Linked DNA regions of Homo sapiens. The protein of the gene in region 2 purifies or fractionates together with the protein of the main gene of each other region. This does not show direct contact. Each region holds a gene or a part of one and is shown on either strand. Other genes may lie near its edges.

Region 1 (7,039 bases), on a different chromosome or scaffold from region 2:
TCCTGCTGCAGTTGGAGCCCCTGGAATTTCACTCCCATTGCTGCAACGCTGAGCAAGAAAGGAACGGACGGTCCCCACTCCCACTCCTTGGGCTGCACTGGAAAAAGGCTGAAGCATTATTCTTAGTGGCTTTCATGTATCAACGTCTTTGTTCTTTACAACCGCTCCATGAGGCAGTACTACTGTCATTTTATGGCATGGACGCTGAAAAATTGGGAGGTCACTTCTGCCTGTGTAACCCTGGGCAATCACGTAGTAATCATTCCTCATGTTATTCAGTTGCAATTATTAGCACATTATCTTTATTCAAATATATTTTTGAAGGGAAAATAATTATTGTCTCTTCCACTAGATTGTGACTCTTTCAAGGGCAATGGTAATTTATTTATTTATATTTTGAGACGGAGTTTCGCTCTTGTTGCCCAGGCTGGAGTGCAATGGCATGATCTTGGCTCACCACAACCTCCGCCTCCCAGGTTCAAGCAATTCTCCTGCTTCAGCCTCCCAAGTAGCTGGGATTACAGGCATGTGCCATCACGCCCGGCTAATTTTGTATTTTTAATAGAGACAGGGTTTCTCCATGTTGGTCAGGCTGGTCTCGAACTCCTGACCTCAGGTGATCCGCCTGCCTCGGCCTCCCAAAGTGCTGGGATTACAGGCATGAGCCATGGCGCCCAGCCAATGTTTATTTTTATAAATAGTTTTATTTCTCTTAATACTATCCATAACACATTATCAGAAACACTGTTCGTGTGAACAACCTTATAAAGACAGGATACAGTGTCGACTGTATTGCTGACCACACAGTTCTGCCACATTGTGGATCAAGAGCATTTTCATTAGCAACTCTGGAAACTTACATGCAATTTACAACAATAATTTAGGAAAACAAATTCTGAACTTACTAGTATCTTAAGAACCCAAAAGTTCTCTGAAATGGCATTACTATCAAAATTTCACCTTTTAAATTTACATATACAGTCACATCCACAGGGTCAAGGAGAGAACACATATATGAGGGTGGTCCTGTGGATTATAATGGAGCTTAAAAAATCCTATCACCTTGTGATGCCTTGATAACTCTGACCCTGAGTAGACCTAGGCTAATGTGCGTGTTTGTGTCCTAGTTTTTGTGTTTTTTTTTTTTTTTGAGACAGAGTCTTGCTCTGTCACCCAGGCTGGAGTGCATTGGCGCTATCTCGGCTCACTGCAAGCTCTGCCACCCGGGTTCACGCCATTCTCCTGCCTCAACCTCCTGAGTAACCGGGACTACAGGCGCCTGCCACCACGCCTGGCTAATTTTTTGTATTTTTAGTAGAGATGGGGTTTCACTGTGTTAGCCAGGATGGTCTCGATCTCCTGACCTTGTGATCCGCCCGCCTCGGCCTCCCAAAGTGCTGGGATTACAGGCGTGAGCCACCGTGCCCGGCCCTGTGTCCTAGTTTTTGACAAAAAAGTTTAAAAAACTAAAACAAACTTTAAAAACGAAAAAAACCTACGTTTTCTTCTAGGGTTTTTATGGTTTTAGGTCTAACGTTTAAGTCTTTAATCCATCTTGAATTGATTTTTGTATAAGGTGTAAGGAAGGGATCCAGTTTCAGCTTTCTACATATGGCTAGGCAGTTTTCCCAGCACCATTTATTAAATAGGGATTCCTTTCCCCATTGCTTGTTTTTCTCAGGTTTGTCAAAGATCAGATAGTTGTAGACAGGCAGCGTTATTTCTGAGGGCTCTGTTCTGTTCCATTGATCTATATCTCTGTTTTGGTACCAGTACCATGCTGTTTTGGTTACTGTAGCCTTGTAGTATAGTTTGAAGTCAGGTAGTGTGATGCCTCCAGCTTTGTTCTTTTGGCTTAGGATTGCTTTGGCGATGCGGGCTCTTTTTTGGTTCCATATGAACTTTAAAGTAGTTTTTTCCAATTCTGTGAAGAAAGTCATTGGTAGCTTTATGGGGATGGCATTGAATCTGTAAATTACCTTGGGCAGTATGGCCATTTTCACGATATTGATTCTTCCTACCCATGAGCATGGAATGTTCTTCCATTTGTTTGTATCCTCTTTTATTTCCTTGAGCAGTGGTTTGTAGTTCTCCTTGAAGAGGTCCTTCACATCCCTTGTAAGTTGGATTCCTAGGTATTTTATTCTCTTTGAAGCAATTGTGAATGGGAGTTCACTCATGATTTGGCTCTCTGTCTGTTGTTGGTGTATAAGAATGCTTGTGATTTTTGTACATTGATTTTGTATCCAAAAGCAATGGCAACAAAAGACAAAATTGACAAATGGATCTAATTAAACTAAAGAGCTTCTGCACAGCAAAAGAAACTACCATCAGAGTGAACAGGCAACCTACAAAATGGGAGAAAATTTTCGCAACCTACTCATCTGACAAAGGGCTAATATCCAGAATCTACAATGAACTCAGACAAATTTACAAGAAAAAAACAAACAACCCCATCAAAAAGTGGGCGAAGGACATGAACAGACACTTCTCAAAAGAAGACATTTATGCAGCCAAAAAACACATGAAAAAATGCTCATCATCACTGGCCATCAGAGAAATGCAAATCAAAACCACAATGAGATACCATCTCACACCAGTTAGAATGGCAATCATTAAAAAGTCAGGAAACAACAGGTGCTGGAGAGGATGTGGAGAAATAGGAACACTTTTACACTGTTGGTGGGACTGTAAACTAGTTCAACCATTGTGGAAGTCAGTGTGGCGATTCCTCAGGGATCTAGAACTGGAAATACCATTTGACCCAACCATCCCATTACTGGGTATATACCCAAAGGACTATAAATCATGCTGCTATAAAGACACATGCACATGTATGTTTATTGCGGCATTATTCACAATAGCAAAGACTTGGAACCAACCCAAATGTCCAACAATGATAGACTGGATTAAGAAAATGTGGCACATATACAGCATGGAATACTATGCAGCCATAAAAAATGATGAGTTCATGTCCTTTGTAGGGACATGGATGAAATTGGAAATCATCATTCTCAGTAAACTATTGCAAGAACAAAAAACCAAACACCGCATATTCTCACTCATAGGTGGGAATTGAACAATGAGATCACATGGACACAGGAAGGGGAATATCACACTCTGGGGACTGTTGTGGGGTGGGGGGAGGGGGGAGGGATAGCATCGGGAGATATACCTAATGCTAGATGAGGAGTTAGTGGGTGCAGTGCACCAGCATGGCACATGTACCCTAAAACTTAAAGTATAATTAAAAAAAAAAAAAAAAAAACGAAAAAAACCTTACAGAATACGGATATAAAAGAAAATACTGGCCAGGTGCTATGGGTCATGCTTGTAATCCCAGCACTTTGGGAGGCCAAGGCAGGCAGATCGCTTGAGCTCAGGAATTCAAGACCAGCCTGGGCAACATAGTGAGACCCCCTCTCTAAAAAAAGTACAAAAATTAGCCAGGCATGGTGGTGCATGCCTATAGTCCTAGCTACTCGAGAGGCTGAGGTGGGAGGATCACTGAGCCCAGGGAGGTCGAGGCTACGGGTGCAGTGGGCTGTGATGCACCACTCACTCCAGCCTGATAGGGCAAGACCTTGTCTCAAAAAAAAAAAAAAAAGAGAGAAAATATTTTTGTACTGCTGTTTTGTATAATGCGTTTTAAGGTAAGTGTTTTTACAAGAGCCAAAAAGTTAAAAAAAAAAAATTAAGTTTAGAAAGTAAAATGTTGACCAGATGCCATGGCTCACACCTATAATCCCAACACTTTGGAGGCCAAAGTGGGAGGACTGCTTGAGGCCAGCAGTTCAAAACCAGGCTGGCCAACACAGAATAGCAAAACCACATCTCCTAAAAAATAAAGACAGAAAGAAAGAAAGAAAGAAAAACGTTACAGTAAATTAAGGTTAATCTATTATCCAAGAAATAAAATTTTTAGAGCAACCCCCAGTCATGCAAGCTGCATTCACGGTAAATGTCCTGTACAGGTGTACTATTTTAATCTTTTATATCATATTTTTACTGCACCCTTTCTATGTTTAGATACACAAATGCTTGCCATTGTGTTACAACTGCATACAATATTCAGTACAGTAACATGCCGAACAGATTTATAACCTAAGAGAAATAAGCTATACCATGTAGCCTAGGTTTTTAGTAAGTTATGCCATCTAGGTTTGTATTAAGTACACACTGATGTTATTCACAATGAAGAAATCGTCTGATACAATAGCAATTAAAGAAATTTCTATTCCTGTCTTTTCAGCATCTCTGAAGTTGATCATAATTCAGATCACGTCTCTAATGTTAAGCAACACATGACAATATACAAAAATTTGCTGATTACCTCTAGAACAAGGTAAATAATGGAATATCCTCAGACTATTCTTGACTTCAACAAGGTTTTCCTATTTGCATCATGCTGGCTTTTGGATTGAAATAAATACACTTTTTAATTTTTTTTGAGAGAGGGTCTTGATCTGTCACCCAGACTGGAGTGCAATGGTGCAAACACAGCTCCCTGCAGCAGCCCTGACCTCCTGGGCTCAAGTGATCCTCCCACCTCAGCACCCCCAGTAGCTGGGACTACAGGTGCATCCCTGGCTAACTTTTAAATTTTTTGTAGAGACAGGGTCTCCCTGTGTTGCCCAGGCTGGTCTCAAGTGATCCTCCTGCCTCTGCCTCCCAAAGTGCTGGGATTACAGGTATGAGTGACCACGCCAGGCCAAAATGTACTTACAATGTTAACGAAATTTCTATCTATTCCTGTCTTTTCAGCATCTCTGAAGTTGATCATATCATTTCTTCCTTTTAATTTGTTGATATAGCAAATTATAAGTGAGACTGGCCTGTGTTCTCAAGTAGTGTGTGTACATGCCATCTTAGTTACATTTTCACATGCTTGCTTCACAATTAGAATTTGGAAGATTTCAAATGGACCTTTTTGGAATAACTAAATGGTACACTTTTTCTGGAAGGAGTGTACACCATTGTTCATTGTTTTACTGCTAAATCCTCCATCATACAACACGTTCAATTTTTCAAATCACTATCAAATGTTAGATCACTTAATTTTTGACAGCATTACTAACTAGAAAGTAGGACTTATCCCCATTTTGTAAATAAAGGTCTAGACCAAATGGCCCATCTATGGTCATACATATAAGGGGCAGGGCAGCTCTCCATTTCCAAGCTTTTCCTATTACACCATGCTGTCTTTTTAGTGCTCAAGATAAAGTGGTTCTGTACGCTATAGGTATGAATGAACAATTATGGTATTCAAGATTTACACTGCATTTGAATCACAGATATAGCCAATACTGTAAGAACTTATAAAACTGTTAATTTTACTAATAGTGAAGCCACTAAAGGGTTATCATTCAGAGGAAAGAATAGATTTATGCTTTCTAGAAGGAGTATTCCAGTTGCCATGTGGAAGGTGGATTGGGAGAATTATCCAGAGTGGTGTCACATAAACCAAGATACATGTGGAAGGGGCCACACTAACAAATGCTACTGGGAGATAAAGTAGCAAAGACTTAAAACCATCTACTGATTGGATTTAGTGACAAAGAAGTCACTGGGAGCCCTGGCAGTTGTGGTGGAGTGAAAATAACAGGCATGCAGTCTGCAGAAGGTTGGAGAGAATATAGGTAACTCTTTAAGCAGGTTTCATTATAGAGACCAGAGGCAGGCAAATGTAGAAAACAAGGAAGGTTTTCTTTGAAGATGGGAGTGATCTAGGAGAGGAAGACATATGCAGTGGGAGAGGCCAAAGATAAAATACAGGGAGTATCTGAATAAAATGCCCAGAGTCAGAAGAGGAGCGGGAACCCAGTCAGTGATGGAGTAGCCTTTGATAGGATGATCTCCTTTTCCATTTCAAGAGGTGGGAAAGGATGCCTGTGAATGGATGCCAGGCTAACCAAAGCGGGGCTGCTCTCTCAGTAACAGGTTATCCAGCATGATAGCCACTAGCTACATGTGGCTACCCCAAACTAAGATATGCTGGTAAAAACACACTGAATTCTGAAGACTTAATGGAGGGAAAAATGTAATCTCATTATTTTTCTTTTTTTTTGAGACGGCGTCTCACTCAGCTGCCCAGGCTGGAGTGCAGTGGTGCAATCTTGGCTCACTGCAACCACTGTCTCCTGGGTTCAAGCGATTCTCCCGTCTCAGGATTACAGGCATCAGCCATCATGCCCGGCTAATTTTTGTATTTTAGTAGAGATGGGGTTTCACCATGTTGGCCAGGCTGGTCTTGAACTCCTGACCTCAGGTGATCCGCCCACCTTGGCCTCCCAAAGTGCGAGGATTACAGGCGTGAGCCACCGTGCCCGGCCTCAATATTATTTTTCATTTTGAAAACACATGTTTAAATGATCTTAGATATACTCAGTAAATATATTAATTTCACCTGTTTCTTTTGGCCATTTTAAATGTAGCTACTAGAAAATTTAAAATTACATATATGTTTGCATTATATTTCTATTGGATGGCACTGCTCATTAATCTTTTCACTGCTGCAGAAAAGGTGAAGTAGAGTTTGACACGTTTAACAAAGCCAAGTAAATCAAGAACATAAGCACTGACAGTCCTAACTCTGAATAAGCTTGAAAGTAAGACTAAGGCTGGGTGTGGTGGCTTAGGCCTGTAATCCCAGAACTTTGGGAGGATGAGGCGGGTGGATAACCTGAGCCAGGAGTTTGAGACCAGCCTGGGCAACATGGCAAAACTCCATCTCTTGTAGAGAAAAAATATGAAATACAAAAATGCAAAAATTAGCTCGGTATGGTAGGGTGCATCTGTAGCCGCAGCTACTCCAGAGGCTGATGTGGGAGGATTGCTTGAGCCTGGGAGGCAGAGCAAGACCCGGTCTCAAAAAAAAAAAAAAAAAAAAAAAAAAACCCAAAAAATAGGATAATCTTCTACAGAGATGTACTACTTTTAAAGAACTTTATCTTTTTTGTAAAATCGATATGAATTTGGTACTTGCTCAGTACACTGAGCCTATTGTGAAATTTTCAAAAATGGAAAAGCAAAAGAGTAA
Region 2 (2,616 bases):
AGGCTGGAGTATAGTAGTGCAATCTCCACTCACTGCAGCCTCAACCTCCCAGGCTCAGGTGATTCTCCCACCTCAGCCTCCCAAGTAGCTGGGACTACTGGCATATGCCACCATGCCTGGCTAATTTTTGCATTGTTTGTAGAGATAAGGTTTTGCCATGTTGCCCAGGCTGGTCTCGAACTCCTGAGCTCAATGAATCCTCCCGCCTTAGTCTCCCAAAGTGTTGGGATTATAGGCATAAGCCACAGTGCCTGGCCTGAAAAGGAGTCTATTTTTTGTTGTTGTTGTTGTTTTTTTGAGATGGAGTCTAGCTCTGTTGCCCAGGCTAGAGTGCAGTGGCATAATCTTGGCTCACTGCAACCTCCGCCTCCTGGGTTTAAGTGATTCTCCTGACTCAGTCTTCTGAGTAGCTGGGACTACAGGTGCCCACCACCATGCCTGGCTAATTTTTGTATTTTTAGTAGAGATGGGGTGTCACCATGTTGGCCAGGCTGGTCTCAAACTCCTGACCTCAAGTGATCTGCCCACCTCGGTCTCCCAAAGTGCTGGGATTATAGGCGTGAGCCACCGCACCCAGCCCGAAAAGGAGTCTTAAACTCCAACAGGAGGAGCCCCTTCACCCTGGGCCAATTTGCAGGCTCTTGTCTCTACCCTTGGTGGGTGGTGGGCGGGGGTGTTTGCAAACTTCAACCCAGCCAGAGCTGCCACAGTGAGATCTACCTCCACTCTCCTAACCCCTTGTGCCCTCTCCTCCAGGTACGCAGCCCGGGACAAGAGCAAGCTGATCCAGCTGGGAATCACCCACGTTGTGAATGCCGCTGCAGGCAAGTTCCAGGTGGACACAGGTGCCAAATTCTACCGTGGAATGTCCCTGGAGTACTATGGCATCGAGGCGGACGACAACCCCTTCTTCGACCTCAGTGTCTACTTTCTGCCTGTTGCTCGATACATCCGAGCTGCCCTCAGTGTTCCCCAAGGTGCACTTCTGGATCAGGCATGGTGGAGGGTGGAGGGTGTGCTTTAGGACTCTCCATTATTCCAGTAGCACTGGTGGGTGGGAGTCCAGAGAGACAAACCCTTTCAGTAACCCTCCCACTCCATAGGGAAAATAGCTACTACCATTCAGTGAGTGTCCCCTTCAGGGACACCCTGGAGGCTAGCAATTGCAGACATAACTAAGATGCAGTGTGGTCATCAGCATCACCACATCCCTCCATAAGAGGCCAGGCACTGGACAGAAGGTATAGGACCCAGTGAAGCTCTTGAGCGGGTTCCTCTAAGATGAGGCCTTGGCATAGAGCTGCAGGGGCAGTCGAGAGGGCAGAACTCGGGGGAAAGGGAGGTAGATGGACACCCCCTATAATCTGATGCAAACCCAGTGACCTCAGGAATTCAGTAAACCCCCTTCCCCTGGCCCAGAGTTGCAAAGGATGCCTGAGGAAGCACCTGGACTGGAAGAAGGAAATCCCGGCTGCTAACCTAAACCCTGCCTCTAACTTGCTATGTGACTTTGAGCCAGCCTCCTCTCTTTGGGCTTCAGTTGCCCCATTTGACAGAGTAGACAGTGTCAGTATTCCAGGATACTGTAGAGGATGGCCATGGGTGTCTCTTCTTCCCAAAGGGGTGGGTGGTTCAAGGGCAGGTAGCTGATGCTAAGTTGGTTCTCCCTACAGGCCGCGTGCTGGTACACTGTGCCATGGGGGTAAGCCGCTCTGCCACACTTGTCCTGGCCTTCCTCATGATCTGTGAGAACATGACGCTGGTAGAGGCCATCCAGACGGTGCAGGCCCACCGCAATATCTGCCCTAACTCAGGCTTCCTCCGGCAGCTCCAGGTTCTGGACAACCGACTGGGGCGGGAGACGGGGCGGTTCTGATCTGGCAGGCAGCCAGGATCCCTGACCCTTGGCCCAACCCCACCAGCCTGGCCCTGGGAACAGCAGGCTCTGCTGTTTCTAGTGACCCTGAGATGTAAACAGCAAGTGGGGGCTGAGGCAGAGGCAGGGATAGCTGGGTGGTGACCTCTTAGCGGGTGGATTTCCCTGACCCAATTCAGAGATTCTTTATGCAAAAGTGAGTTCAGTCCATCTCTATAATAAAATATTCATCGTCATAAAGACAGGTGATCTTTTGGTGGTCTGTGGGGCAAGGACTTACTCTCGGGATGGTCACAAGGTTCCAGATGGCTTGCCAACTCTGATTCAGTGGGATGGCAGCCTCGGGGAGGAGTACAGGTGGGAATAATTCGTGATATCTGCCTTGGGTGCAGGAGGAAGGTTTGGGGGTACAAGTGTGAGGATTAGATAACCTCGTCCTCATCTTGTCCTCCTCATCTTGTCCTCCTCATACCCTCACCCAATAGTTAGGTTGTCTGATAAAGACCCAAGTTCAATGCATCACCATTATCTCCATGCCCATCCTACCCAAGGCTAAATATCAAAATTCACTGTCCACTAGTAGCATCTCTTGAAACCAGTCAGTCTTTTCACTAGCACTCTGCTTTCAAACGGACTGCTTAAAATTAGACTCCTAACAAATTAAAGCATTAAACAAGAGGATGATGGGGTTGGGAAGGAGACATACCAGAAATACTAGGCAAAGGACAGTTATATGATGG

Evidence for each region.
Region 1: the proteins of DUSP13B (region 2) and PDIA6 purify together in Homo sapiens (affinity purification with mass spectrometry, with the first as the bait; 2 studies listed by BioGRID). This does not show direct contact.

The regions. Positions count from the first base shown.
Region 1 is NC_000002.12:10,802,777-10,809,815, forward strand, and holds part of PDIA6 (protein disulfide-isomerase A6 isoform d precursor), read right to left. Parts: intron 1-7,039. UniProt on the Homo sapiens protein: May function as a chaperone that inhibits aggregation of misfolded proteins. Negatively regulates the unfolded protein response (UPR) through binding to UPR sensors such as ERN1, which in turn inactivates ERN1 signaling.
Region 2 is NC_000010.11:75,093,936-75,096,551, reverse strand, and holds the end of DUSP13B (dual specificity protein phosphatase 13B), read left to right. Parts: intron 1-756; coding exon 757-977; intron 978-1,673; coding exon 1,674-1,876; 3' UTR 1,877-2,116; downstream 2,117-2,616. UniProt on the Homo sapiens protein: Dual specificity phosphatase that dephosphorylates MAPK8/JNK and MAPK14/p38, but not MAPK1/ERK2, in vitro. Exhibits intrinsic phosphatase activity towards both phospho-seryl/threonyl and -tyrosyl residues, with similar specific activities in vitro.